Linked DNA regions of Homo sapiens. The protein of the gene in region 2 interacts with the protein of the main gene of each other region in a pairwise test. Each region holds a gene or a part of one and is shown on either strand. Other genes may lie near its edges. The genes, in order: EEF2KMT, KIAA1328 and CYTH4.

Region 1 (10,234 bases), on a different chromosome or scaffold from region 2:
ATCCTGGCCCCGCCCCAGGACCCGCCAACCTGGACTCTACCCAGGACCTGCCCCCTACCCAGGACCTGCCCCAACGACGCTTATCCTGGCCCCACCCCAGGCCCCGCCCTCATAACAATCATCCTGGCCCCGCCCTAGAGTCCGCCCCCACGACGTTCCTCCTGACCCCCGGGGGACCCCCGGGCCCCGCCCCCTCTCTGCCCCCGCTCACTGCCCTGGGCCCGCCCCCTCTTCAGTCCAGGCCGGGCTTCCGCCCGGTCTGCCGGCAACGCTGCGGCCCCGCCCACGTCATGGCGCCCGAGGAGAACGCGGGGACCGAACTCTTGCTGCAGAGTTTCGAGCGCCGCTTCCTGGCGGCACGCACACTGCGCTCCTTCCCCTGGCAGGTGGGCGGCGGGGCGAGCGGAGAGGCCCGCGGGGCTCGCGGGAGTCCAGGGGCAGACGGGACGGGTCTCCGTGCTGAAGCCCCTGGCGCTCCCGCCACGTGAGTTCCTGGGCTCCCGCCGGTCAGGGCCGCGCGACCCGGTCCCCGTCCCTGGGGCCTGGCCAGAGTCGCTCGCACCCCTCCTGCCCCGCGAGCTGGCGGGGGAAGCTGGGGGCGTCTCCACAGCCTTGGGGGGCAGACGCGCGCTCGGTGTGGGGTACAGTTCACGATCATTTTCACGACTTTTTAAAGGCAGTAATCGTTCTGGTCACTGGGACACAGCTGCCCTCGCCCATTCTAAAAAGTCAGCGCCGTCAGGACCGCAGGTAACCACGTCCTCCTGAGCGCGGTGACCGGGTCACAGGCTGTCCCTCGTGCCTCAGTATTCTCATCTGTATGTTGAGCACTGCACAGAATCGGCTCATGCTCTGAGGCTGTCACGCCTGTGATGGAAGAGACAGAGAAGGGGGTGGCCTCTCCTCGCCCTGGGGACCTGCCATTCTCAGCACAGGCCCATGGCAGGCAGCAGCCTCCCTTCTGCCAGCAGAGGGGCTTAATGCACCCGGCCTCATTTGTAATTCATGTGCGGTGAGCTCACTGGGATGAGTGAGTTTGGATATATATTCCTCCCTGGGTCTGCCCCATTTTATGGGGTGTTGCTTAATCATTTGCGTTATTCCATTGACATAAAATATTTGCACTCAGAGATCATTTCTGGTCAAGAGAAATTCGTGCATTTTTAACCCAAAATAGAAACCTTCATAAAAGCATCATAGGTCTCCATTCAGTATTGACTGTAATTGTTCACATGCCCACGCTGAATGCTAACTTGGGCTCACCCTCAACACCCACGAGGTGGGTACTATTATTACCACTCACATTTGACCAGAGGGATTGTTTGATTAGGGTGCAGTAGTTGAGAGTTCAGACCCAGGAGACAGCCTGTCTGCTTCGAATCCTGGCCCAGCCCCTGGCCCTGTGTGACCTTGGGCAAGTGACTGCATCTCTCTGTGCTGTTTTCTTATTAATAAAATGGGGGATATAATGATACCTACCTCTTAGGGTTGTTGTCAGGGTTGAGTACAAAAGCCTGTGGATCAGTGCCTGGCTCATGGTAAATACATGTTGGTGTTAGCTAGTGTTTTTATTCAGTCTCAAAATGTTTAATAAATGCCTTCTGTGAGCCAGGCACCATGGATCAGCAGTACCCATGACAGATGAGGCTCTGCTTGCATGGGAGAGCCAGAGAATAAACAAATAAATAAACAAGAAAAGACCAGATGACAGTGGCTTTAAAGCCAATAAAACAGGGAAATAGTGAATGCGGGAACTGGGAAGAAGAGTCACCAAAGTCAGGGAATCAGGGAAGCCTTCCCCAAAGAGGTGGCATTTGAACTGGGGCCTGAGTGGTGAAGCAGCCAGCCATGGGAAGGGCTTGGGGAACAGGATATGCAAAGGCCCTGTGGTGGAAACAAGCCAGCTGTGGTTGAGGAACAACACCAAGGCAGCCAGTGTGGCTGGAGTGGAGTGAGCAGGGTGGGCCAGGGGTGAGGGAGAACAGGCCAGAGAGAGGGATTAGGACCAGGTCTTGTAGGGCCTTTTATGGCATGGAGGGAGCTCTGAAGCAATGAAGTGCCTTGCCCTGTGTCACATACCAGCCGAGACAGTCTGCCTAACTCGGGAGCCAAGGCTCGCTGCTGGGCTTGAGGCCCCTGTAAGAGGATAATGTAACTCAGGCTGGTATGGGCACATTCTGCATCTCCACTTAGATGGCAAGCCCATCAAACCTTGGTGCCATGGCTGCCCTGGTAATTCCTGGCTGAGCAGTGCAACCAGGGAGCTGGCCCATGACCCGGGTGGCCGCTAAGTAGCCAGGACTAATGTGGCCAAAAGTCAGCCTTCTTCCTGTGACTCATCCAGGTGCACCCTGCGACATCTGAATGTCAGGCTTTCAGCCGCTGTGGCTTCCACTTCCAACTGGCTCCACGTCCCCAGGGAGGGATCACACAGCGCTTTGCCAACACATTCTATTGCGTGTTTAATGTTCCTGTGAATGCGCCCTTGAGATTTCTCTCTTTCCCCTCCACACAGAGCTTAGAAGCAAAGTTAAGAGACTCATCAGATTCTGAGCTGCTGCGGGATATTTTGCACAAGGTAAGAATCCCAGAGTCCCTGGGACTCATGACCCTGCCTCCTGAATCTCTCCAGAAGACCTGAGAGAAGAACTGCAGGTGTGCTTGTACCCTTTAAAAACACCCCTGTTCAAAAAACAAAACCATTGAGTCAGCACTGCAGGTGGGTGTCAGCACCTCTGACAGCTCCAGCGCTTTCGTTTTCTATTTAAGACTTAGACAAAGACTTCAGAATATACAAAAACCTGCAATGAGAGGGGGGAATCTAGGGAATGTTTTTTAAACCATCCACAGCAAAAACAGAGATGACAGGTGCAAAACAGCTTCTAGCATTTGGTTGATGTTCAGAGACTTTCTTTTTTGCTTTCATGAGGCCTGTCCTGCCCACTCCTGTCTCCTCTAGACCTAAATGGGCCCTTGCTTTGCCCAGGGTGGGGTTTGGACTCAAGTGCATCTGCCTGCAGGTGAGAGGCAGGATCACCACCCGGCCCAGCCACAGCCTGACCTTGGCCTTGAGGGCCAAGTGCAGATCACCCTGCATCCTGGGTCTTCACGTTCGAAGGGCCATGAGCCCTTCTGAAAAGACCAAGCAATAGACTCCCTCGCAGAAAGAAGTGCACCAGAAGAATACATTTTCCATACAAACTCAGGAGGCAGATATCCTCCACCCCCACCCACCCAGCCCATCCTAGGAGCCCCGGTGAAGAATTCCTGTGCTAGAGGTGAACCAAGATTATCCATGTGGAAAAGATACAGCCACAGCAGGGAAAACTTTCGGGGCAATACCAGGGCTTCGAGCATGGAGATACCTGAAGTTATCTCGCACCCTGCTCTGAGTTTCACCCTGAGCCTCACTCTCGTAGGTGGTGAAGCATGAAATGTAGGGAGAGCTGCTTTAAAACCCAGCACAAGGCTGGGTGCACTGGCTCACACCTGTAATCCCAGGACTTTGGGAGGCTGAGGTGGACAGATCACCTAAGGTCAGGAGTTCCAGACCAGCCTAGCCAACATGGCAAAAACCCATCTCTACTAAAAATACAAAAATTAGCTGGGCGTGGTGGTACATGCCTATAGTCCCAGCTACTCAGGAGGCTGAGGCAGGAGAATCGCTTGAACCCAGGAGGCAGAGGCTGCAGTGAGCCAAGATCGGGCCACTGCACTCCAGCCTGGGCAACAGGGCGAGACTCTGTGTCAGAATAAATGAAAAACCAGCACCAGCCTGAAGAGCCTGTGTATTGCGTGGGGTACTTTGCTGCCCTTGGGCAGAATCTGCATCCCTCCCAGCCAGCAGGCACTGTGGACCGTCTCCTCCCTCTCCCTCCAGGCTCCTGTTTTCCCGCCGTCCCCACTCCTGCTGCACCAGTCCCTCTGCCCTCCTTTCCAAGTGCCAGGCTGTGGCCACCTCAGAGCTTGCACCAGCTGTTCCCACTGCCTAGAACTTGCTCATCCTGCATTTGGCTTCTCTGGGCTTTAGCTGGAGTGTCACCCGGAGCGTCCCGTCCCCTCCATCCTGTCCCCAGGGACACACACTCCAAGAGAGCAGTTGCCGAGTGGGCCTTCCCGCCTCTTCCATAGAGCCAGACCGTTGGCGACTGTCCTTACTGCAAACCCTGGTTCACACTGGCTCCCCTGGGAGGGAGGCGGTTTGGGCCCACATGCCCTGTGTTCCTGCTCAGAATGGGCGTTAGAAATGCTGCCATAGCCTGTGCCACTGCAGTGGAAGCATTTTTAGGAAACAGCTTATATCTTAAGACAAACTTCAGATGCATGGGGCCAAAACGCTGTGTCCATCTACATCTTTGCTGAGGGATCGGGTAGCCTGGAGTTTGCCCTCTGCTGTGTTGGCTTGAAGCTCATAGGAGACTTAAGACGGGCTCTCGAGCAACCAACGTTCTGTCCTTTGCCGTAGACTGTGAAGCATCCTGTGTGTGTGAAGCACCCGCCGTCCGTCAAATATGCCCGGTGCTTTCTCTCAGAACTCATCAAAAAGGTCAGTTATGGGCAGTGTCCGCCCAGTAGCCGGACAGCATAGCCACCTGCGTGCTGGAGCCCCCGTCCTTCCCAGGCCCTGGGCCTGCTTTGCAAACCCCAGCATGGCAGGGGCCTCCCCAGGCAACTGGCTGCAGCCACATGTGACCCATGGGAGACAGTGCAGGGCGGGAAGAAGGGGAGGCCAGCATCTCTCCCTCACTCTGCCTCCTGGGGTTTCCACGGCAGCTGCTCCTCTGGGGCCCCAGCTCCTAGCATATGGATTCTCATTCCTACCAGGCTGGCCCAGCCCACAGCACTGGAACCCTCACCCGCACCCTCTGTCCTGCCCGCTGAAGGGTTTGGAGTTTCCTGCTCTTGTCCGTCTCTGGGTTGCCCCACAGGCCCCTGTTGGAAGATTTAGCTCTTGCCATACCTTCGGAACTAGTTCCTCTGGTGAATTCTCTGCATTAATCCTGCTGGAATGAGCTCTTTCCTGACTGATAAAGGATGAATTTTATTTTTTACTTATTTATTTATTTTTTTGAGACAGAGTCTCACTGTGTTGCCCAGGCTGGATTACCGTGACACAATCTCGGCTCCCTGAAACCTCTGCCTCCTGGGTTCAAGCAACTGTCATGCCAGCCTCCTAAGAAGCTGGGACTACAGGCACACGCCACCATGCCTGGCTAATTTTTTATTTTTAATAGAGACAGAGTTTCACCATGTTGGCCAGGCTGGTCTCGAACTCCTGACCTCAGGTGATCCGCCTGCCTCGGCCTCCCAAAGTGCTGGGATTACAGGCATGAGCCACCGCACCTGGCCTAGGATGGATTTTAAAGATGCGCCCGAACATGCAGGGTTTGACATGAGGATGTCGAGAGGCCTCCTCAGTAGGCAGTAGCAGACCTGCTGAGTGAAAGAGCCACACTTTTAGCAAATAAACAATCCCCTGCTTCTCCAATACCTGCTTTCTCCCTAGTCCTCCCCAGAAGCATGCATCTGTGGTCACCAGCAGGTCTGCCCTGTGCCACCAGGAGAGGGCAGCAGTCACCCAGTGTACTCTGCTGCTGCCCTGTGAATCATAGGACGGGGCCAGCTGTGGAGAAGCGGCCTGCTGACAGCCACAGCCTGCAGCATGGGCCGCCCTCACACTTCTGCCTGGGCTCACTTAAAAGCACCTTTTGTTTTCCTCCTCTCTGTGTTTGATCCAAACACGGCTCTCTATCATGGTCACCTGGCAACTCTCACGGAATCCTTGTCTCCTGCCCTAGACTACACCTAACCCTACCCTCCCAACACCTCTGGTTCAAGGCCCTCCCATCCAGGTTTCCCTACCAAGTGAATTTTTTTTTTTAGAGACAAGGTCTCTGTTGCCCAGGCTGTCCTCGAACTCCTGGGCTCAAGCAGTCCTCCCATGTCAGCCTCTAGAGTAGCTGGGACTATTCGGCACACACCACCAAGCCCAACGAAGTGAATATTTTATATGGCAGCTGGCCGGTATTATACCATTCCATCGCAAATCTCCCCTCCAAACTTGGTGAAAATCATCTGGCCATTTTTACAGATTAGAACGAAAGCAAACAAGCTCTCACTCTGTCTGCCCCCAGCACGAGGCTGTCCACACAGAGCCTTTGGACGAGCTGTATGAAGCGCTGGCGGAGACCCTGATGGCCAAGGAGTCCACCCAGGGCCACCGGAGCTATTTGCTGGTATGAGAAGGGCACCCTCCTCCCCCTCACAGCCCAGATACCCTTCCTGCACAGACAAAGTGAAAACGTGGGTGTGGGTTCAAATCCTGACTCACCCATTCTACAGTCTTAGACATGAGGTCCGTCAACCTTCTTTAGCCTCAGTTTCCCTGTCTGTAAATCAGGCACTTCAACAACAACAGCATGTCTCGTGGAGTTGTTGGGCACTTATCCAATAGGTGACACACACTACCTGCTTCACAAGGACCTGGTGCCCAGTCCTCAAAGAATACTTGACAGGGCTGGGCGTGGTGGCTCACGCCTGTAATCCCAGCGCTTTGGGAGGCCGAAGTGGTTGCATCTGAGGTCAGGAGTTCGAGACCAACCTGGCCAATATGGTGAAACCCTGTCTCTACTAAAAATACAAAAATCAGGCCGGGCGTGGTGGCTCATGCCTGTAATCCCAGCATTTTGGGAGGCTGAGGCGGGGGGATCACCTGAGGTCAGGAGTTTGAGACCAGCCTGGCCAACATGGTGAAACTCCATCTTTACTAAAAATACAAAAATTAGCGGGGTGTGGTAGTGGGCACCTGTAATCCCAGCTACTAGGGAGGCTGAGGCAGGAGAATCTCTTCAACCCAGGAGGTGGAGGTTGTAGTGAGCCAAGATCATGCTATTGCACTCCAGCCTGGGCAACGAGAGCAAATCTCTGTCTCAAAAAAAAGTACAAAAAGTAGCCGGACATGGTGGCACACGCCTGTATTCGCAGCTACCTGGGCGGCTGAGGCAGGAGAATTGCTTGAACCCAGGAGGCAGAGGTTGCAGTGAGCCAAGATCGTGCCACTGACTCCAGCCTGGGTGACAGAGCTCAAAAAAAAATAAGATAAAACATAGATACAGAAAACCACAAAGGAAAAACAGCATATTGAATCATCACAAGGCAGCCACCCCTTCATAGCCACACCTGTCCCCTGGCCACCACTGACATGTGTTCCATCGCCAGAATTCCGTTGTCTCAGGAAGGTTCGATGAATGGAATCCTGTGTGGCCTGAGATGAGTGTCTTTCACACCGCGTGACACCCTTGAGGCCCGTGAAAGCTGTTGGCATGCCAACAGTTAGCTGCTTCTCATTGCTGAGTGGCGATTGGTCCTGTCATGGTTTATTCAGCCATGTGGTGGGGCTACTTGTCTTCTAAGCCACTTGCCTTCTGATCGCTGGACTGACTCTCTCGCCTTCTCTTGGTGCAGCCCTCGGGAGGCTCGGTCACACTCTCCGAGAGCACGGCCATCATCTCCTACGGTACCACAGGCCTGGTCACATGGGACGCCGCCCTCTACCTTGCAGAATGGGCCATCGAGAACCCGGCAGTCTTCACTAACAGGTGACCTCGGGGCGCAGGGCAGGGCACCGAGGCAGGCTTACCCTGGTGCAGTCGCAGACACGGTCCCCTTTCCTCCCGCCAGGACTGTCCTAGAGCTTGGCAGTGGTGCTGGCCTCACAGGCCTGGCCATCTGCAAGATGTGCCGCCCCCGGGCATACATCTTCAGCGACTGTCACAGCCGGGTCCTTGAGCAGCTCCGAGGGAATGTCCTTCTCAATGGCCTCTCATTAGAGGCAGACATCACTGCCAAGTTAGACAGCCCCAGGGTGACAGTGGCCCAGCTGGACTGGGACGTCGCGACGGTCCATCAGCTCTCTGCCTTCCAGCCAGATGTTGTCATTGCAGCAGGTAATGCCCAGCCCCGGGCACCCTGTGCAGGTGGTGTCCTTGCAGCTCTACCCAGCTCTTGGCTCTGGGAAAAGGGAACAATGGACGCTGTCGGGCATGGACATGATGGGGCTTCCAGAAGAGTTACTCTGGGCCTCCAGGGTGACATCACAGGACAGGGGTGCCTCTTAAGGTGACCTTCAACCCACAGCCCTCTTTTTGGAGACAGGCATACTCCCGTTCCAGTCGTTACCACATGGCTCTGTCCCAGAGCCATGCCCTGTGTCCTTCAGAGACCACAGGAGGAAAACAACCACTTCTGGGACGAAGACAGGGCCCTTGAGAGAAGGTGGTGTTTGGCTGGGCCACCGAAAACCCCTCACCCCTGCCAGCACACTCAGTCCCCTCTCTGGTGGAACAGAGCTCTGCCTGTGGTCCTAGGTCCCAGCCCTGAAACCCACAGGTCCAGCGGTGGCCAGGGACACAAGCCCACCCCTGCAAGCCAGCAGACAAATCAGCAGATGCCTGAAACATGAAGTTCATGGCAGGGTCAGGCTTTGTGTCATTCAAAGCCCTCTAGATAGGCCAAGAACCAGAGCTGGTTTTTTAAGGAACACCAGTGAGTCTGGAGATTTTTTTCTTTTGCTTCGGTCTTTTGCAGCTTTCTCTACTAAGGGTTCTCCTTTTTCACCCAAGTAATTGCCTTTCCATCTAATGGCCCAAATGGTCAAATGGCATCTACTAGTCTCATATGACCGCTGCCTCTCTGGCCTCGCCCTGCTGCTGACGTCAGCATGACCTGGACCTGTCCACTGGTCCCTTTCAGTAACCTGAAGCTTTCACCATAGATGTGCTGTATTGCCCAGAAGCCATCATGTCGCTGGTCGGGGTCCTGCGGAGGCTGGCTGCCTGCCGGGAGCACCAGCGGGCTCCTGAGGTCTACGTGGCCTTTACCGTCCGCAACCCAGAGACGTGCCAGCTGTTCACCACCGAGCTAGGTGAGCCTCCACGCCCACCCGGGCCTGCATGGTCCCTGAGCTGTCCCTGCAGGACGCCAGTGGAAGTGAAAGAACTGGGTGCCGGGGAAAAGCTAGGTTGCCCCACACTCCCACACCATGGGGGGAACTCAGGCAGAGGCCAGTGAGCAGGGTGGGCTTGGGGCGTGGGGGGCTTGCGGCAGGAGGAGGGCAGCTCAGCACAGGGAGGGAGGGTCTGAGCCCAGCAGCCCTACTGTGTGCTTCAGAGCAGGGTTCCCTAAGCCCTTGGGCCTCGGTTTCCTCATCTATAAAATGGAGGTGGCGGGAGGGGCAGTCGGGGTCAGGGCTGGACACAGCTGTGGCCTGCAGGACGCTGGAGCACAGGATGTACAGGCGGATCCACCACGCCACTGTCCTGAGCACCCAGTCGGTGGAAGACGAGCAGGGTGACTGTAGAGAAGGGGAACTGGCCCCATAGTGGGCCAGCAACTGTCCTCAGACCTGACATTTGTCAGCCCCCAGCAACTGTGAGGGTGTGCTGTCACTGTCCCATCTCACCAACAAAGACACTAGGACACACGGAGGCCAAGAGACCCCCGAGCTCCCGCAGACTGCACCCCAGCCACCTGGCTCTCACGCCTCCACACTACACCCAAGCCCCCCAGTGCCACCAGCCTTTGCCCCAGCTCCCCCTGAGCACAGCCCCTCCTGGCAGCCATGTGCACAGATGCACATGCAGCAGCCTCTGCCTGCACACAGAGACACAGACAACCCAGTGCCTGTCCACGTGGGGCAGCCCGTTAACTACAGAGCCAACAAACAAGCCAGCACACGAAGACGTACTGGGTTCCACGACAGAGTCCCCCCACAACCTCGCACAGGAGGCTGGCCGGGCGCAGGGCTCAGGCCTGTCATCCCAGCACTTTAGGAGGCTAAGGCAAGAGGACTACTTGACCCCAGGTGTTCAAGACCAACCTGGGCCACATAGTGGGACCCCATCTTCACAAAACATACAGAAGCTAGCCAGATGTGGTTGCACACGCCTGTAGTCCCAGCTACTCAGGAGGCTGAGGTGGGAGGATGGCTTGAGCCCAGGAGATGGAGGCTGCAGTGAGCCCTGATCTCACCACTGCACTCCAGCCTGGGCAACAGAGCAAGACCCTGTCTCAAAAAAGCAAAGAAATAAAAAATAAAAAAAAAAAAAGGAAGTCTTTCTTCAGATACTTACGTGAAAAAAAACCTGCAATATATTTTAAGTGAAAAAAACAGTGCCAAGCAGCACACATAGTATAAGCCCCCACCCACCTTTTTTTTTTTTTTTTTTTTTGAGAC
Region 2 (10,234 bases):
GTATAGGAATGCTTGTGATTTTTGCACATTGATTTTGTATCCTGAGATTTGCTGAAGTTGCTTATCAGCTTAAGGAGATTTGGGGCTGAGATGATGGGGTTTTCTAAATATACCATCATGTCATCTGCAAACCTGGACAATTTGACTTCCTCTTTTCCTAATTGAATACCCTTTATTTCTTTCTCTACCTGATTGCCCTGGCCAGAACTTCCAACACTATGTTGAATAGGAGTGGTGAGAGAGGGCATCCCTGTCTTGTGCCAGTTTTCAAAGGGAATGCTTCCAGTTTTTGCCCATTCAGTATGATATTGGCTGTGGGTTTGTCATAAATAGCTCTTATTATTTCAGGATACATTCCATCAGTACCTAGTTTATTGAGAGTTTTTAGTATGAAGGCTGTTGAATTTTGTTGAAGGCATTGTCTGCATCTATTGAGATAATCATGTGGTTTTTGTCTTTAGTTCTGTTTTGTGATGGATTACATTTATTGATTTGCGTATGTCGAACCAGCCTTGCATCCCAGGGATGAAGCCAACTTGATCGTGGTGGATAAGCTTTTTGATGCGCTGCTGGATTTGGTTTGCCAGTATTTTATTGCAGATTTTTGCATCGATGTTCATCAGGGATATTGGTCTAAAATTCTCTTTTTTTGTTGTGTCTCTGCCAGGCTTTGGTATCAGGATGATGCTGGCATCATAAAATGAGTTAGGGAGGATTCCCTCTTTTTCTATTGATTGGAATAGTTTCAGAAGGAATGGTACCAGCTCCTCTTTGTACCTCTGATAGAATTCGGCTGTGAATCCTTCTGGTCCTGGACTTTTTTTGGTTGGTAGGCTATTAATTATTGCCTCAATTTCTGAGCCTGTTATTGGTCTATTCAGGGATTCAACTTCTTCCTGGTTTAGTCTTGGGAGGGTGTATGTGTCGAGGAATTTATCCATTTCTTGTAGATTTTCTAGTGTATTTGCTTAGAAGTGTTTATAGTATTCTCTGATGGTAGTTTGTACTTCTGTGGAATCGGTGGTGATATCCCCTTTATCATTTTTTATCGCATCTCTTTGACTCTTCTCCCTTTTCTTCCTTATTAATCTTGCTATTGGTCTATCAATTTTGTTTCTTTTCAAAAAACCAGCTCCTGGATTCATTGATTTTTTGAAGGTTTTTTGTGTCTCTATCTCCTTCAGTTGTCCTCTGATCTTAGTTGTTTCTTGCTTTCTGCTAGGTTTTGAATTTGTTTGCTCTTGCTTTTCTAGTTCTTTTAATTGTGATGTTAGGGTGTTGATTTTAGATCTTTCCTGCTTTCTCTTGTGGGCAGTTAGTGCTATAAATTTCCCTCTACACACTGCTTTAAATATGTCCCAGATATTCTGGTACGTCATGTCTTTGTTCTCGTTGGTTTCAAAGAACATCTTTCTTTCTGCCTTCATTTTGTTATTTACTCAGTAGTCATTCAGGAGCAGGTTGTTCAGTTTCCATGTAGCTGTGCAGTTTTGAGTGAGTTTCTTAACCCTGAGTTTGAATTTGATTGCACCGTGGTTGTGATTTCTGCTCTTTTACATTTGCTGAGGAGTGCTTTACTTCTAACTATGTGGTCAGTTTTGGAATAAATGTGATGCGGTGCTGAGAAGAGTGTATATTCTGTTGATTTGGGGTGGAGAGTTATGTAGACATCTGTTAGGTCCGCTTGGTGCATAGCTGAGTTAAAGTCCTGGATATCCTTGTTAACCTGCTGTCTCGTTGATCTATCTAATATTGACAGTGGGGTGTTAAAATCTCCCATTATTATTTTGTGGGAGTCTATGTCTCCTTGTACTCTCTGAGGACTTGCTTTATGAATCTGGGTGCTCCTGTATTGGGTGCATATATATTTAGGATAGTTAGCTCTTCCTGTTGAATTGATCCCTTTACCATTCTTTGATTGCCTTCTTTGTCTCTTTTTTTTTTTTTTTTTGTCTTTGTTGGTTTAAAGTCTGTTTTATCAGAGACTAGGATTGCAACCCCTGCTTTTTTTTTGTTTTTTTTTTGTTTGTTTTTTTTTTGCTTTCCATTTGCTTGGTAGATCTTCCTCCATCCCTTTATTTTGAGCCTGTGTGTGTCTCTGCACGTGAGATGAGTCTCCTGAATACAGCACACTGATGGGTCTTGATTCTTTATCCAATTTGCCAGTCTGTGTCTTTTAATTGGGGCATTTAGCCCATTTACATTTAAGGTTAATATTGTTATGTGTGAATTCAATCCTGTCATTATGATGTTAGCTGGTTATTTTGCTCGTAGTTGATGCAGTTTCCTCCTAGCATCGATGGTCTTTACAATTTGGCATGTTTTTGCGGTGGCTGGTACCGGTTGTTCCTTTCCATGTTTAGTGCTTCCTTCAGGAGCTCTTGTAAGGCAGGCCTGGTGGTGACAAAATCTCTCAGCATTTGCTTATCTATAAAGGATTTTATTTTGCCTTTACTAATGAAGCTTAGTTTGGCTGGATATGAAATTCTGGGTTGAAAATTCTTTTCTTTAAGAATGTTGAATATTGGCCCCCACTCTCTTCTGGCTTGTAGAGTTTCTGCCGAGAGATCAGCTGTTAGTCCAATGGGCTTCCCTTTGTGGGTAACCTGACCTTTCTCTCTGGCTGCCCTTAACATTTTTTGCTTCATTTCAACCTTGGTGAATCTGACAATTATGTGTCTTGGGGTTGCTCTTCTCAAGGAGTATCTTTGTGGTGTTCTCTGTATTTCCTGAATTTGAATGTTGGCCTGCCTTGCTAGATTGGGGAAATTCACCTGCATAATATCCTGAAGAGTGTTTTCCAGCTTGGTTCCATTCTCCCTGTCACTTTCAGGTACACCAATCAAACGTAGATTTGGTCTTTTCACATAGTCTCATATTTCTTGGAGGCTTTGTTCGTTTCTTTTTACTCTTTTTTCTCTAAACTTCTTGCTTCATTTCATTTGTTATAGCCACAGGAGTTAGAGAAAATGCCACACTTTGAGACAAATTAAGAGTCCTTTATTTAAGCCGGCGGCCAAAGAGATGGCTAATGCTCAAAATTCTCTTGGCCCCGATGAAGGGGCTTAACTTTTATACCTAGGTTTAGGAAGGGGAGGGGGACTTAAATGCAATAACTCTACAGAAGTAAAAACATGCAAGAATCAAAAGAAGCAAATGGTTACAGAGAAATGAACAATTTAAAAGACAAATGGTTACAAAAAGAGCAAGGGTACCAGGTGCAAGGCTCTAAATCCTTCATTATAGTTAGATATAAATGCTATGCCAGACAGGAACTCAAGGCTTTGTGTTGTTATCTCTTTGAGCAAAACCCTGGGAACTTCATACATTGTTTGCTCCAGTATCTTACCAGTTAATTGGGCTCCTTTGAAATGCTGAGGATCTGCTTACACAGGTTAACTCCTTAAGGAAGGGGGTTGGGTAAGGAGCCCTTAATGTCTTGTAAATCAAGAGGTCAAATGGAGTTTGTCCGGCTTTCCCAGCCAGGGAGAGTGTATTCATATGGGAAACATGGCTGGCAATTAAGGAGACAAAAAAAGGAAAATTTAAAGTAGTGAGCTAGAGTAAAAAACAAGGTTAGGCGTTACACATTCATTTGATCTTCAGTCACTGATACCCTTTCTTCCACTCGATGGAATCAGCTTCTGAAGCTTATGCATGCGTCACGTAGTTCTCCTGCCATGGTTTTCAGCTCCATCAGGTCATTTAAGGTCTTCTCTACACTGTTTATTCTAGTTAGCCATTCGTCTAATCTTTTTTCAAGGTTTTTAGCTTCCTTGAGATGGGTTCATACATCCTCCTTTAGCTTGGAGAATTTTGTTATTTCCAACCTTCTGAAGCCTACTTCTGTCAACTTGTCAAAGTTATTCTCTGTCCAGCTTTGTTCCATTGCTGGCGAGGAGCTGTGATCCTTTGGAGAAGAGGCACTCTGGTTTTTAGAATTGTCAGCTTTTCTGCTCTGGTTTCTCCCCATCTTTGTGGTTTTATCTACCTTTGATCTCTGATGATGGTGACCTACAGATGGGGTTTTGGTGTTGATGTCCTTTTTGTTGATGTTGATGCTATTCCTTTCTGTTTGTTAGTTTTCCTTCTAACAGTCAGGTGTCTCAGCTGCAGGTCTGTTAGAGTTTGCTGGAGGTCCACTCCAGACCCTGTTTGCCTGGGTGTCACCAGCAGATGGCTGCAGAACCGCAAATATTGCAGAACTGCAATATTGCTGCCTGATCCTTCCTCTGGAAGCTTCATCTCAAGGGGCACCCAGCTGTATGAGGTGTCAGTCGGCCCCTACTGGGAGGTGTCTCCCAGTTAGGCTACACAGGGGTCAGGGACCCACTTGAGGCAGTCTGTCCGTTCTCAGAGGTCAAACACCATGCTGGGAAAACCACTGCTCTCTTCAGAGCTGTCAGGGATGTTTAAGTCTGCAGAAGTTCCTGCTGCCTTCTGTTCAGCTCTGCCCTTCCCCCAGAGGTGGAGTCTACAGAGGCAGGCAGGCCTCGTTGACCTGCGGTGGGCTCCACCCAGTTTGAGCCTCCTGGCTGCTTTGTTTACCTACTGAAGCCTCAGCAATGGCAGATGCCCCTACCCCTGCCAGGCTGCTGTCTCGCGGGTCGATCTCAGACTGCTGCACTAACAGTGAGCAAGCCTCCGTGGGCATGGGACCTACTGAGCCAGGTGTGGTTTATAATCTTCTGGTGTGCCATTTGCTAAGACTGTTGGAAAAGCGCAGTGTTTGGGTGGCAGTGTCCCTATTTTCCAGGTACTGCCTGTCATGGCTTCCCTTGGCTAGGAAAGGGAAGTCCCCCGACCCCTTGCGCTTCCTGGGTGAGGTGATGCCCCACCTTGCTTCGGCTTGCCCTCTGTGGGCTGCACCCACTGTCCATCCAGTCCCAATGAGATGAACCAGGTACCTCAGCTGGAAATGCAGAAATCACCCATCTTCTTTGTCGATCACACTGGGAGCTGCAGACTGGTGCTGTTCCTATTCAGCCATCTTGGAACTGTATCCCCCAATTTTTTCTAATTTTTAATTTTGAGGAGGATCTTTCTGTTGATGCAACTGACAGTGGAGCTGCTAAGAGTATTTTGTAGGCTGTGCCAACATTTGCATAGATTTCTAATAAAGTATTTCCAAATATGAATTTTAGTTTATATAGAGGTGATTATTCTTGGGGATCAGATTTTCTAAAAAGATTTAACTCTTCATACACATTAGTTTCATACATGTTGGAATTTAATTTTAAATACAAATCTCTATGATGTCATTTTAATGTTTTCTCTAGCATGTTCTGTAACATATAAAGATCATATAAGAAACCAAAAATCACTTAATGATTTGTCTATAATTCACAGTGCTTGTTTATGCTTTCTATAGCAGCATCTTCAGTTACAAAGAAAAATTAAATTTAAAAATTGTATTCCTCATTAATAATTGGTTCATTAGAAATTGCATATGAGAATAGTGGGTTTTTTCCTATCAAATGCAACAATCTTTAATTTTTATTTCCAAACCTGTGGATGTTCGCTTTCCAGTGTTGTAGCAGTTTTTAAAACCAGAGATTCTAAACTCTTTGAAGGCTTCTAATATATCTCTGATATGCTTCATTGTAATGTCCACGTGTATGTTTTTATTTTCTAATAATTTACTGGCATTTATACTTAATGCTAGCAGTTCCTATCCCAGTTCTCAGGCCAGAAAGATGACATTTTTGCCACAGGGATGGGCTTGGGAAACAGACAACCCAGCCTCTCACCACTGCTGCTTCTGCCATTGTCACCACCATTAATTTGGAGCTAGGTTCTGGCCCCAGCTATCCCCTTAGGGCCCTATGTGGTACTCCAAACTGTTTTTGTTTGTTTGGTTGGTTGGTTGGTTGGTTTTTTGTTTGTTTGTTTGCTCTATTGCCCAGGCTGGAGTGCAGTGGCACGATCTCAGCTCACTGCAGCCTCCACTTTCCAGGTTCAAGCGATTCTCCTGCCTCAGCCTCCTGAGTAGCTGGGGCTACAGGCACATGCCACCATGCCCGCCTAATTTTTGTATTTTTAGTAGAGACAGAGTTTCACCATGTTGTCCAGGCTGGTCTTGAACTCCTGACCTCAAGTGATCCACCCACCTCGGCCTCCCAAAGTGCTGGGATTACAGGCATGAACCACCTCACCCGGCCCCCAGAATGTTTTTTTACCTCTAAGCTGCTCTGCACTTACCCTTTCTGAAAAGAATGCTGGACACAAGGCAGTCTTTCTTTGGAGGGATGTCTTTATAGATTTAGAATCTTTTCCCAAACTTCTAGAAAAAGTGGAAGGGGGTTAACAGGAAGGAACTAACATTTATTCAGTGCCTATTATGTATTCATTTATATCAATGAATTCATTTAATCCTAACTGGAGTTTTGCTAGCCTCTTACACATGAAAAGACTGAACTGAGACACTGAATAACTTCCCCAATATTACACAGCTTGCAAATGGTAGAACAGAGATTTGAACCAAGCGTGTCTGTCTGTGAAGATTTCGACAGACAGCTTTAGTGTCCTGGATGAGAGTGCTGGAGACAAACCACCTGGGTTCAATTCTAGACTCTGCTGTGTAATTGCTTTCTGTTAGATGAGTTACTTCCCTGAGCTTTAATTTCCGCATGTTTATAATGGAGATGAGAGTAGTATAGTACCTACTTCCTAGGGTTCATTAGAGGATTATAGGAAGGTTAAATATTTGTAGTGTTAGGAACAGTGCCTGACAGTAAGCCTGCAGTAAATGTCACTGTTAATATCATTACTGTTATCATGATTACTCTTCCCACTCTACAATCTCTCTTCATAAGTTATAAAGGAATGTTAGGGGTCAGCAAAAGAGAAGAGCTTATGTACAGGCAGCAGGGCCTAGGTTCTTCAAGTCCTTCTGGTGTTTACCTTCACAAAAATTCCCTTAAGCATCATCTTATGCATGATGTGATCTGTAATCTAATTCTTGCCCTGGACAGCCCATTTCTGCTGGGCTTCTTGAATTCTCATTTTCTAATAATCTGATCCTTTCCTGTCTGGGTTATATGTCTTACAGGTATGAGACATCTTTGTTGGATTTGGTTCAGTCTCTGAGCCCAAACTCTGCGCCCAAACCTCAGCGCTATCCCTCCAGAGAAGCTGGGGCCTGGAATCATGGTACTTTCCGACTCAGTCCTCTAAAATCAACCCGGAAGAAGATGGGGATGCACAGAACCCCTGAAGAGTTGGAGGAGAATCAGATTCTGGAAGATATATTTTTCATTTGACATATTGCAAAATTTTCTTAGGAAATTTGTGGGTTTCCTCACATACTGATCTAGGATTTTAAATTATTTCATTGCAAAGTAATTGTGTCTCTCCTTTCACGGGGACTTGTCTCACTAGCATCCTGTTACGTATTGAATATAGAAATCATTCTAACAACCCAGGTTATTTTCAATCAGACCAGGCATTCGATAACACACTAAGGGGGTAGGAATGGAAGATGGTATCTTTTATATGCTAAACAGATTAGAAAATTAACATAGGATACTTTCTGCGTGGTGGAAACCATTGCATATTCAGCCTCATTTCAAGAGTGTTTCCTTCTCAAACTTCTGCTAGAAAATGCTGACTCACTTTTATATACAAGAAAAACCTTTCCACTGAAAAATCCCTCTGATTTAAAAGTAACCCCTTTGAAACATAAGCAGTTTCAGAAAGGCAGACTCTCTCATCTTTCTCATCCTGTTCTCTCACTACTACATTTCTGTAAGTGGTCCTTTAATTCTGAAGTTGGAGTTGGTGCCCCTGCCATCACAAACAACACGAGAGCCAATTGTGAGTCAGTCTCAGTAGCCATCAGCCTGGCAGCTGCCCATCCCATAACCAAAGAGCTCAATGGGCTGGAGGGTGAGACCCAGCCAATCCTTGGGAGCAAGCAGCACTAAATCACATCAGGGAGTGATTAGTCCTGGGGAAATTCAGTGGAGGCACAAGCCTGAAGCACTCTTCTACCAATGTTTGGGTGACCACCCCTCCAATATCCCAGAATGAATAAGAACAATCCCTAGGTATTTTTATTTACCCAAGTGTTCAGCTTATTCACCCCACCCCCCCACCCCCCATCACACGTGCTCCTGTGAACTTTCCATGGTTATGTCTACGGAAAATGCCACTAGAGAGAGAGTGATGCAAGCTGCTGCAAAGCTGATGGGCTTCCTCTGGCCCTCCCTTTTCCTCCACGAGGATTAAAGGATACAAGCTGACCAGGCCTCACAGGTGCTCTGCTCGTGGCCCCAAAGAACCATCTCTACTTGCCAGAGTATGTTCCACCACCCAAGCAGGGTCTCCCTACTTTTTCTCACTGGCCTCGTTTTGACCCAGAGAAAGCCTATGGAAGTTATGCAGTGCAGACCTCATCCTGTCTGCTGTCTTTTCTCCCACAGAGCTCTTGAGATGGGTCCTTCAGCTTGCAGTGGTCCCTAGTAGCCTCTCAAGCTAATGGGGATGATGATCCTGGTTTAGCCAGAGTTCAAAACTCTCCAGTCATTGAAAGCAAGGGGAGGGTGTGTTCCCAGATGTGTATTACTTGGGAATTTTATTTGATCTGGAGGGTGTGGCTTTTTTTCTCTCCTTTTTACCAACCCCAACTAAACTGGGAGTAAGACTTAGTCAGTGTTGGTAGACAAAGTCATACCACCCAGGGCAGCCTGCATGCAGCGAGTCTGCGTGGCTTCCCTGAATTACTCTTTTAATTAAAACTAGATTATTTCAATCTAGAAAAGCCTTGTTGAGCAGCCTCCTTATCCAGATAGATCCAAAGCTCATGTCTCTTCAGGCTGAGACTGGCGCTGTCACCTCCACCCAGCCTTCTTTCACTTGGGGTTTTTTATTCTTTGGAGTAGAAAAGAATGGAGCCCACTAATATTATATTTTTCTTCTGAAATAAATATAAAGTCAAGACTAACTAGTTATAATCATTCCCTTAAAAAGTTGGAAAATCATTACAGATTAAAATTTCTTTATAAAGTTCACCTCTGAGAGTAACCAAATCGGTTTCATCCCATATCAAAAAGCCTTTGGAGTGTGGAGCTTTCTGTGGTATGGCAGAAATGGGTGGATGGCAAACTAAGAGCCCTCAGCCATTTTTTCAGTTAAAGTTAGGTTGCCAGAACTTTCTTTTCCTTGCCCCCTGTGTCATGACTAGCTTAAGTGTACTTGACTCCCATAGACTACTCCCATGCCCACAGTCACCCATTCCAGACTCCAGTGTCCTTAAAACTCTGGAGTGAGAGGATGCCAGAGGATCAAGAAAAGGATCACAGTTTCTTGAAGAAGCTTGTTTGCCTTTAGAAGAATCGTAAACAGAGTCTAAACTAAAGGCTTTTTGGGGGTCACAGCCACAGAGTGGAGTTTTATTGCTTCTTTGCCTCTCCATGAATGGCCAATTTGGAAAAGCAGAGATGGGCTTTCAGCAGAATATCAACCAATACATTTTTCACATGCAAAACTCATCACCAGTTGCCTTTTTCTAACTTAATGGACATTTTGTTGGTGTTGGTGCAAGGGCAATAGGATGTAAATTTGTATATAATCTAATGTCTTCATTATTAATTGAATAGTACATGTTAACATTTTAATCTATTTAAATTTACTTTGAAATATATACATACATATGAATGAAAGGTTGTTACAGAGCCTCAAAGCTGTTGCAGACTATCCCAAGAGAAAGGATCTGGCACAAAGGAATCTGCCTTTCCTCCGTCTCAAGTCTCCCACCCTTGACTGGTTGGGATTTGCTCGTCCAGCCTCTAGACACTTCCCAAAGCAAGACTGGACACATGCCGAGGGCGTTGCGGATAGTGCCTCACCATTGCCCACCCTGCTGCCCAACTCCTGTGAGAGAAAAACCAATCAATGTTTACAAAATGGAAAAGGACACAGCATGTCCTTTGAACTCCCTAAGTAAGGCCCACAGTTCTTGATGCAGAGAACCAAAGTGAATCATAGAAAAGCTTTTGCTAACAGTCCGCTTTCCAGGAGGCAAACTTGTGTTTATCCAAACCTGATCCCCATGATGGGGACTTTTCTAGAGCACCCCAAATGTCATGGGGAGAGAGGGACTCTTTCTGCTCCCTCAGAGCTACTCTTCACTTGTCCCTGCTTCCGGCACCAAGTTCATAATAGAGATCTTCTGGCCAGAGAATCAGGGGAGAGGAGAGGCCTGATGGGGCAGAGCTGGACGAAGTCTGCTAAG
Region 3 (10,234 bases), on a different chromosome or scaffold from region 2:
AGTGCTCAGTGAGGGCTCATGAAGGGGTCTGGGCTGCCAGGGTCTGGGTACCTGGGGGAAACCTGAGGGGGTCTGTGAAATCTATGCCTGGCAATGCTGAAGGGGTCCCGGAGCCCTGGGTCCCACTCCCCTCCTGGCACCTGTGGACTGGAAGACGCCTGGGTTGCAGAGGCAGTATCGAGTGGCAAAGGCCTCCATCATCCGGTCTATCTTCTGGGCCTCGCCCGGCAGCCGGAAGCTCCACAGGAACTGCCTGGGGGAGAAACGGGGCCACGGGCAGTGGAGTGGGTGGGCCCTCGCGGGCCCCAGACAAGCTGCCCTGCCTCTCCCAGGTTTAGTCTCTGTATCCTGTAAATGGGGGAATCTGCAACTGTCATCTGGGCTGACGGGGAAGTGGGATGGGCACCAGGGAGCCCCAAGCACGCGGGAGGTAGCCAAGAAATGCCTTTTCTTGCAGAATACGGAACTAAGCACACGCCCCGCTCTGCAGGTCTGAATCCCAGCACTGACTGCAGCCCAGTCTGCCTCAGCTGGGAAGGGGGACGGCCTCTGCCTGCCCCGGGGTCTGTGGCTCCCCGCACCTGGCCTTTGGGCCCTGAGATCTGGCTGTGGGACCTAGTTGGGGAAGAGGTGGGGCAGGGGTTTTGCCTTGCTAGGGCTCCCTTTCTTGGAACCTCGACTTCCCTCTAGCTCTGGAAGTTGGTGGTTTCGACAGCTTCAAGCTAAGTTCTCTGAAGGTGAGAACTGGGCCTGTATCTCTCACTTCTCCTCCTGGGCTTCACACAGTCCTGGGCACCTAGCAAAGGCTCAGTAAATAAGTGAATGAATGAATGAATATGTGAATGAATGAATGAAAGAATGAATATGGGAGACTCCCAAGTCACCTACCCCTCTCCCTTAAAGAGCTGGGAGTTAGAGAACACTGGATGGTGGTGGCTTCTTCCTTCTCTGTATTGTGAACTCCTACTCACCCTCCAAAGCCCAGATCAGATGCTCCTTCTCGGAATCTGAGTTTTCAAGCAGCATCAAGACTTACTAAGCACTCACTGTGGACCAGTTTTAAACACTTTCCCATTTAGTCTTCACAACCCTGTGAAGTTGGTACTATTATTATCCCCATTCTACGGATGAGGAAACTGGGGCACAGGAAGGTTTATTTATTTTTTTGTGAGACAGAGCCTCACTCTGTTGCCCAGGCTGGAGTGCAGTGGTGTGATCTTGTCTCACTACAACCTCCACCTCCCAGGTCCAGGTGATTCTCCTGCCTCAGCCTCCCGAGTAGCTGGGATTACAGGCGCCCGCCACCACGCCCGGCTAATTTTTGTATTTTGTGCATGTGTATGGCTTGCTTAAGGTCACACGGGGGTGAGCAGCAGAGCTGGGATTTGAACTGTATAGTCTGGCTCCAGAGTTTGTGCTTCAAACTGATAATTGGACTGCCTCTGCAGTTGTAAAAATGAGTACCAAAAACAGTACCCTAATTAGAAGCTAATAAGTCATAATAATTGGAATACATGCTAAGCAGTCTTATAAAATAAATAAAACATGCACTAATCCAAAAAGTAGGAGAATGACCATAATAAAGTAATAATGATTAGAATGATTAAATATGGGCATGATAGAATTCTAACTAAGAAGGCAGTATTTGCTATTTGCAAGGAACTAGGCCCTTTCCCAGGCGGTCCAGCTCAGCTCTGTGAGGCAGTACTATCATGAAGTCATTCTTGTTCCTTGCCTCCTCTTCTTTGCTCCCAACCCTTTGTTTGTGCTGTCAGCTATGTGGATCGCGACACCCCCAGCCACTGGGGCTGTGCCACCCTTGAGGGCCGGGACCCTGCCCCAGGACTACTCACCTGAGGGCCTGGACGAGGTTGAGGTTGGCGAACTCGTGGCAGTCCACGAAGGCCTGGAGGACCTGCAGGTTGATGGGATCCCTGGGGGAGGAGGCGGAAGGGAGGGTGGGACACACTTGGATACTTGCTGGCACCCACCTCCTGGAGGGGGTTGAGGTGGGGGAGGGAGAGGACAGAGACATCTGTCCTTCTGGGGTCCAGCTGCCATCTGGTGTGTTCACATCTGTCCCACCCATATCACACCCTGAGGGCACACCCTTGTCCTCCCATGCAGGAACACACACCTTCACGGCTCACCAGCGCTGGTCTGGCCTGGGAGGGGAGCCCTGGCTTTGGAGCGGCCTTGCCCTCAGTCCAGGCCTTCCTCATTTCCTGTAACTTCCCACCTGGTGACCTCGCGGAAGCCACTTGACCTTCCCAGCCCCAGCTTCCTCATCTGTACAAGGGAGAGAAGCTGACCTCCCCCATCTCCTCCCTCTCCCCAGCTCCTGAAGCAGGAAGGTGCCCTTCTCACCGTCTGCATCCCCTGCTCACCGCGGGAGGGAGGGGTGTCCTTGGGAGCTGGGGAGAGGGCTGTTGACTCTCTGGTCCAGCTTCACCCCTATCCACTCGCCCACCCCTCAGACCAGTCCTTTGCCCAGAGCGCTCCCACAGATCCCCACCTCCTCGCCCACAATATCCTTCCTCTCTCCTCCCGTCCAGTCTAGATTCTTGAGCCTGTTTCTGACCCCAGGGCCTTTTTACTTGCTACTCCTGGACCGCTCCTCCCCCAGATGTCTGTACTGCTCATGCCCTCACCTCTTTTACGTTTTGGTCAAATGTCACCTTCTCCATGAGACCCTTCCTGTCCACGCTATTCTAAATCACAGCCCCCAACCTATGGTCCCCAGCATGTCTTTCTTTCTTTGTTTTCTTTTCTTTTCTTTTTTTTTTTGAGACGGAGTCTCGTTCTCAATCTGTTGCCCAGGCTGGAGTGCAATGGCGTGATCTTGGCTCACTACAACCTCCGACTCCCAGGCTCAAGCGATTCCCCTGCTTCAGCCTCCTGAGTAACTGGGACTACAGGCACCTGCCACCACATCCGGCTAATTTTTGTATTTTTAGTAGAGACGGGGTTTCACCACGTTGGCTAGGCTGATCTGGAACTCCTGACCTCGCGATCTGCCTGCCTCGGCCTCCCAAAGTGCTGGGATTACAGGCATGAGCCCCGAGCCTGGCCGGTCCCCAGCATTTCTGACTTCCCTTCCCTGCTCGATTTGTATTCCACAGAGCTTATCATTCTCTAACATATTTTACAACTATTGAGACCTGTCTCTCCCACTAGCATGGACTTCCTGAGGACAAGAGTTTTGTCTGTCTTATTCACTGGTGTACACCCAGGGCTTAGGATGGTGCCTGGAACACAGTAGACCCTGAGCAACATTTATTTGTTGAATAAATGACTAAATGAATGAAGGCAGTCAGGCTTTGACTCAGAATCTGGAGGGGATGATCCGTGAGCCCCTCAAGCACTAGGAGTGATGACTTTGCTAACATAATTCATCCTCTCACCTGCACATCCACACACCTGTACACACCTGCACACCTTCATTTCCTGCCTCGCTAAGGCTCCACTCGTTCTTACCTCTCCCCCAGGTAGGTACCAATGGCTGTCTTGTTGAGGCCCTCGCCTTTATACAGGAACCGTGCAATGTCCTGGACGTCAGGGGTCAGCAGCTTGTGCTCAATGAAATACTGGATACCCTGGAGGGGGTACACAGAAGCCGTGAGCAGCTGCTGCATGGAAGCAGGCCTGGGAGGGGGAAGGGAGGAAGGAGCTTCCATGGCCAGAATCCTGGAGCCTGGCATTCTGGTGTTGGCACAGTCTGTTCTGGGAAGTTTTGACCCCTCTTTCATAGGAGCTGCCTTTGGGAGGTGATGAGTTCCCCATCACTGGAGGCATGCAAAGAAAGTCAGCTTTCCTGCCATGAACCAGGTTCATGCCAGGTACTCCCCAGGGTCCCCCTCAGTCTGACATTCTTTGATTATATGCTTCAGTGACTCTAGGAATTTGTGATTCTGAGATTCAATGATTCAGCCATTTCTTTTGTTCCCCTAAAACTCATATTATTTAAAAATAGCGTTTCATTCTTTCACACAAGTAATCTATGTCTATTGTATAAAAGTTAGAAAAACCAGCTCAATCCAAAGGGGAGGAAATTGCCCGGGCCCTACCGCTCGGAGGCAGACAGCTTCCATCGTGGTGACCTTCCTTCCCTTTCTATGTGAAAATGGGCTCAGACCATGCCTGTCACATTTAAATCTGTTTTTCGGATTTGACAATATCACAAGCACCTCTCCTCACCACCAAGGCACTCAGAGTTTGTCATCCTAGTTTTAGGAGTTGGAGGGGTTGGTCTCTGGCTCTCCGTGAAGATTCCTCTGTGTTCCACTGCTGGAAGTTGGGCACAGGCCATGAGGGCCCAGTGACAGGCAGAGGATGCAGAGGACACCCCTGGGTGCTGGGTGGGGTGAGAGTGTGAGCCTGCGGGGGTCTCTGTGGGTAGGAGCAGGAGTCCAAGGGTCTGTAGCCATGAGAGGTGAATGGTTATAACACTTTGGGCCTGTGATGGGGACAGGGAGCCTTCTAAGCCAGAGCGGTAAATTTCCAGGGACCCCAGCTTGGTGCTCTCTGCTGGCCACCTGACCCCACCTCGGTGTGTCTGCCTGCGGTTTCCTTCTGTCTCCGTCCTTTCAGGATGGAAGCCCAGCTGCCACCTGGTGGGGTGAGGCCAGGGGCTTGGGAGTGGTGTGGGGGATCGAGGTAACCCAGCCCTGAGCTGCTGCTCCTACTAGCAGAGGGGTGGGTGGTGGGACCGCAGGACTGGCCCTCCCTGAGCCCAGGGCTGGAAGATGCTTCTGGAGCCTAAGCCCCAGATCCAAGAGCTCCACTGTCCCAAGCCACATTCATGGAGAAGGAAATGGAGGCCCAGAGTGGGGAAGGGACTAGGCCAAGTGCATGGACACCGTGGCCTCCTCCATGCTCCTGGCTCCTCCTGCCCCAAGGCGTGTATGCCTGGGAGTAGACAGGGCGCCCAGCCACAGCTGGCCATGGGGCACTGGACAAGATGCTCAGCTCTGCTGGGCACAGCTTCCTCCTCTGGAAAGGGGTCGTGTCAGCCGAGGGGAGCGAGAGGACACCAGGCAGGTGCTCCCATGCAGCCCCCACACCCTGTGGCCCGGGCCCTCCACAGCCACCTACCTTGGCGGGGTCCATGTTGAACTTCTTGCGCCCAATACACAGCTCCTTCTCCTTCTGGGCCATCCGGCTGTGGACATGAGGACGTCAGCTTGGGCTGCCCCAGGACCCTGAATTACCCTCTCCACTCCCCAAGGACCCTTGCCTCAGCAGGAGCCCATACCCCTCTAGGGCCCTCCAAGTGTGGCCTCCGGGTCCTGCATGGGAACCACCTGGGCGGGAGAGAGCAGTGCAAGGCCTGGCTCCTCCCAGAGCTCTGCAGCTGACTTCTCTGATGGGCCCAGCACGGGCATTTAGCAGCTTGCAGGAACCCGGAGCTGCCGTGTGGGAGAAGGTGGAGGGGCCCTGTGCAAGAAACCGGGGGAGGGGGCGAGGGCTGAGCACGCAGGTGCTGGAGCCAGGCTCCTGGATGCGAATCTGAGCCGGGCTGCTTTGGGCGAGTCACTTCCTCTCTCTGGGCCTCAGGTTCCTCATCTATAAAATGGAGGTGATACCACCACCTGCCTCCCAGCATTGTTGAGAGGTTAAAGCACCTAAAACAGTGAGGCGTAGGTGTGTTATGTTGTCATTGTTGTGGCTGGAACAGGGGAGCTGGAGAAACGGCCACTCGTGTGTGTGCATGCTTGTGTGTGTGTGCATGCTTGTGTGTGTGTGCATGCTTGTGTGTGTGTGCATGCGTGTGTGTGTGTGCATGTGTGTGGTGGGGGAGGGGAGGAGGCTGGACAGGTGGAGACCTAAGGAGTGGCGGGCGCAGGATGGGAAATTGCCAGGACATCGTGTGTCAGAGTCAGTGCACTGGGGCCTTAGGAGACTGTGTAGCAACCAACCTTCTTGTTGCACAGATGGGGAAACTGAGACCCAGAGAGGGACAGGATCTGTCCCAGATCACAAAATAGTGGGAGTTTTCCACAGAGGCGGTGGGCGTGGCTGGCCCGGGGTTAGTGGTGAGTGGGGTGGGGTAGGGCCAGGCTCCTGTCCTCCTGGGGCCCTGGGCTTCCTTGTCCTTGCCCTTGGGGCTGAGCTTCCCTTCTCCCCGCCCATCCCAGGGTGGATGTGGCCAGTGATCGGTCAGGGCTGGACCACAGTGGGTCAGGAGAGACTTTGGGTTGGGGGAGGGGAGGACGCAGTGTCTCTCAAGAGAGGGTCAGCCTGGGAGCAGGGACCAGACCCGGGATGGGGCCGGGGCCACCCTGTTCCGGTCTCGTTGCTGCCTCCTTCTCCCTGGCCAATCCCTGATTTCACCAGGTCCAGGGGGCTGGGAGTGGCCCCTGCTCATTCAAGGTGTATGACATCCTTGGGAAGCAACCATGGCAGTTTCTGGGGGTCCCCACCCAAGCCCCTCACCTCTCCTCCGCACTCTCGAAGCAGTCGATTTGGGCAAACACATCTGCAATCTCATCCTTCAGCTTCTGTGGGGTGGCAGGGGCAGGACAGGGAGAGTCAGGGGTGGAGGCCAGAACCCCGGGGGTTTGAGACCACAAGGACCACTCCTACCCCTGGGCACGACTCTCAAACCTGGCCCCTCTCCCTGACCTCTGTCCTGAGTCCCCAGTCTGAGGGACCCTCCATGGACAGGTCCCCTCCCTGGATGTCTCATAATTTCTAAGTCGCATGCTAAACTATCACCTCTGTCTGCACCCATGCCTCCACTTGTCTTGGGGAGTGGGATTCCCCAAGCCCCCATCCCTTGCCCATCCTTTTTCCAACCTTCCCATCTCTCCTCTCTGCAGCCATGAAGTCTCCTGCACTCTAGCCGAGCCTACCCGACAAGCCGGCCTCCCCACTGCCCACCTCCCCCAGCCCACCTCCACCCTGCCCGCCTCCACCCTGCCCACCTCCACCCTGCCTGCACCCCCCGCCCGCCTCCACCCTGCCCACCTCCCCCAGCCCACCTCCACCCTGCCCGCCTCCACCCTGCCTGCCTCTCCCGGCTGGTGTCTTTCTGGAGCACTGCATGGAGCCTGCCCTTCCCCTGCTCAAACCCCTCCCATGGCTCCCTACTGCTTCCTCAGCTTCTCTCTGGCTTTCCTCCATTTACTATGTTGCTCACCCTTGACTAAGTGCCCGCTATGTGCCTGCCAGGTACTACGGGGACACCACGCACAGGCAGCCTAGGCCCTCTTTCCAGGGACTTTGCAATTCCCCTGGACTTTACAGAAGAGGACACTGAGGCGTAGAGAGATGACACGACACGCCCGCAGTCTGACTCCAAACCTGTGCTTCCCCCAACTCGACCCCAAGCCCATTTCATCTTGACCCTGCAGGAGGCACCCAGTGGCAGAGGGGACCCCCTAACACCTCCCCCTGCCAACCACCAGCACCCCCTGAAGGACACCAGCATGAGCCTCTGGCCGGCACCCCCATTAGGCACCCAGCCCCTTTCTCCCCAGGATCTGCAGGGTGCTGGTGAGGGGCTGGTTCCAGGGACTTGTCCTGAGACTCAGGGCCAGCATGGGACTTGGGAGCCTGTGTCTGAGCCGTGTCAGCTCCTGTTCATGCCATCTTGGCAGAGCCACTGAGTGGTTGCCCCACAAATACAATGGGGATTCATTTGCAAGTATTAACTGAGCACCTATTAATGCTGCACCCAGCGGGCTGGGGATGCAGTGGTGGGCAAGACAGACCTCGGCTCTGTGTTCATGGAGGGCACAGTCTGGTGGGGCTGGGATCATGGGTGGTCATAGGGTAATTGGAATGACTATGCAGAACACCATCAGAGCAAGGTAGAGAAATCCTGGCATATAGTAGGTGCTCAATGAAACAGCAGCTGAGTGAATAATTTTGTGCCTTCATTTCCTCACTGAAATCCTAAGTTTATGTGCATGGGAGTGGGGGTGGGCACAGCCACTGCAGCCCAGGCAGAGGGGACTGCGAGTGCAAAGGCCCAGGGGCAGTGCTGAGCAAGGCACGTTCCAGGAACAGAACCCAGCCTGTCTCAGAAGCTGCTGACCCAGATGAGCTGACGTCTGAGTCTGATTGGTGAAGTGGTAAGTGCAGGGCACATACTGGGAGTTATCTTGACCAGGTGGTCTACACTCTGCAGGGGTGAGACCTGGCTGAAGCTTCACCACAGGGGTCAGAGCCTGCCCTGTGACAAAGCAAGTAAAGGCCAGGATGAGGATCGGCACACGGTGGGCGCCTAATTGGATCGCTGCCTCCCTCCCCGGCTCTCCCAGTTCTCCCTGGGTCTCGGGGTGTCTGCAGTCTTGTTGTTCTCCCTGCTCCTGGGGCTGGGGCCGAGGCTGATATGAGCCAGAGTTGGCCACACTGTCTGTTGACCAGGCTGGGTCAGGAGCTGGTGGGGTGCGTACAAGCGTGCAGGAGTGTGGGCATGGACACGTGTGTGGACACGAGTGTGCACTCACCTGGATGTCCTCCAGGAGCTGCTTTCGGTGCCACTTGATCCTCTGTAACTCTTCCGTCTCCCCGCTGCTCAGCTCCGCGGGCTCTACAGAGAGACAACCGGCCTTCCCCATCACTTGGCTCCAGCCACACCCACTTGCCCTCACTTCTGCAGGGCCCCCTTCCCTCCGGAAACCCAGGACTTGCCCTATTCACAGAGGCCCACCTCCTCCAGGAAGCCTCCCCTGACTGCCCTGTCTAAAGCAGCCCCTGCTCCCTCCTCTCCTGCCCTGCTTCCTGTTTCTCCCACCCCCCTGGATAGACACCCCCAAAAGGATCCTGTTTCCTTGCATCTTTTCTGTCCCTCCCGCTAGACTCTCGGCTCCATGAGAGTTCAGTTGTTCTACTCTTTTGCTCACTACTGTGTCCCCAGCACCTAGAAAGAGTCTGACATGTCATAAGCACTCAGTTAAACACTCGCTGAAGGCACGCATTCCTTCCCCGGAACTTGAATCTCCTCCTCCACTGGCTCATGGGCTCATTATTTATTCACTTATTTATTTGAACAACCAAGAAGTGGTATACCATTTTCCTCACATCCCATTGGCCAGAATGTAGTCACGTGGCCACACCTAGCTGCAAGGGAGGCTGGGAAATGAGCCTGTAGCAGGGTGGTCCTGATGTCCTTACTGTGTAAAATGGGGAGGCTGGATTTGGGGGATATTTTATAGTCCCTGCCCCTGGATACTGGGGCTCAGAGAGGTGAGGTGACTCAACCCACAGGGAAAAGGTCACTGAGCCAGGATGGGACCTTGAATTGGGCTGACTCCAAAGCCTGTGCTCTTTCATCTCCACTTGGAAATGAATTAAATGAAATAAGATTTGTGTGTGCGGCATTCTATGCAAGGTGCTGTGATGATGCCCACAACTAGGTCAGCTGTCCTATCTTCATGCTTCATGGTGGCTTCTGTTTCATCCACAACACTCTCCTTCTCTGAGTAATATGGCCTCCCTATTACTCAGAGAGAAAGTCTTCATCCTGGGCCTGGGGCCTCCACAACCTCTCCAGCCTTGGCAGCCAGACTTATTCCCTGCCATTCCCAAAAAGAGCCTGCCAGTCCAGCCTGCCAGCTCCTTCCTGCTCCAGAGCCATCCAGGACTCAGTCCCACTTCCCCATGTTTGCCCAGGCCGCTCCTGTACTCTGGGATGCCTTCTCCTGTCTGCCTGCCCAAATCCTCGCTGACCTTCAAGTTCCAGCGTCGGGAAGTGCCTGGCCGCATTTCTTAAAGGTTTTACAAGGATAGACATCATTTCCTCCAAAAGAACACAGAGGGAATGTTGAGCGCTCCCTTTCCCTACTTCTCCTTCTCATGATTAAGCAGGCATTGTGGCTGTTGAGATTAAAGCCCCATGCGGAGATGCAGGGCACCAGGCTAGATGGAGCCCAGGTCCCCAGGCAGCGGTGTGGAGAAGACTCATCATGTTCACCTGGCCCACCTATCCATTTGGACTTTTCAATAAGAAATAAATCAGTTTTGAGAATGTTTCGGTTGCTGTTATTCTGAGTCTCTTTAAGCAGCTAAATCTGAGATATACCTAATACAGCATCCTCATCTGTGAAATGTGAACCATAACCCTTGCCTCACAGGGCAGCTGTCAGGAAGGAAAGAGCTACACTTTGTCAAACACCCAGCAAGAATCCAACATATGCTGAGTCCCACATGTGTGCAATGGGTGCTGTGTGCATCTGGCTCTTCTCTTCAGGACCAAGGCACCATCCCCCCAGCTGCTGGGAGGAAA

The links.
Region 1: the proteins of KIAA1328 (region 2) and EEF2KMT interact in binary tests that used the Homo sapiens proteins (3 or more experiments, as listed by UniProt).
Region 3: the proteins of KIAA1328 (region 2) and CYTH4 interact in binary tests that used the Homo sapiens proteins (3 or more experiments, as listed by UniProt).

The regions. Positions count from the first base shown.
Region 1 is NC_000016.10:5,087,796-5,098,029, reverse strand, and holds the start of EEF2KMT (protein-lysine N-methyltransferase EEF2KMT), read left to right. Parts: upstream 1-234; 5' UTR 235-290; coding exon 291-386; intron 387-676; exon of another isoform or gene 677-750; intron 751-2,515; coding exon 2,516-2,578; intron 2,579-4,465; coding exon 4,466-4,546; intron 4,547-6,134; coding exon 6,135-6,236; intron 6,237-7,464; coding exon 7,465-7,598; intron 7,599-7,680; coding exon 7,681-7,946; intron 7,947-8,773; coding exon 8,774-8,923; intron 8,924-10,234. UniProt on the Homo sapiens protein: Catalyzes the trimethylation of eukaryotic elongation factor 2 (EEF2) on 'Lys-525'.
Region 2 is NC_000018.10:37,214,966-37,225,199, forward strand, and holds part of KIAA1328 (protein hinderin), read left to right. Parts: intron 1-7,051; coding exon 7,052-7,262; 3' UTR 7,263-10,234. UniProt on the Homo sapiens protein: Competes with SMC1 for binding to SMC3. May affect the availability of SMC3 to engage in the formation of multimeric protein complexes.
Region 3 is NC_000022.11:37,290,926-37,301,159, reverse strand, and holds part of CYTH4 (cytohesin-4), read right to left. Parts: intron 8,559-10,234; exon of another isoform or gene 8,540-8,558; coding exon 8,457-8,539; intron 6,501-8,456; coding exon 6,436-6,500; intron 5,162-6,435; coding exon 5,095-5,161; intron 3,597-5,094; coding exon 3,478-3,596; intron 1,935-3,477; coding exon 1,854-1,934; intron 254-1,853; coding exon 141-253; intron 1-140. UniProt on the Homo sapiens protein: Promotes guanine-nucleotide exchange on ARF1 and ARF5. Promotes the activation of ARF factors through replacement of GDP with GTP.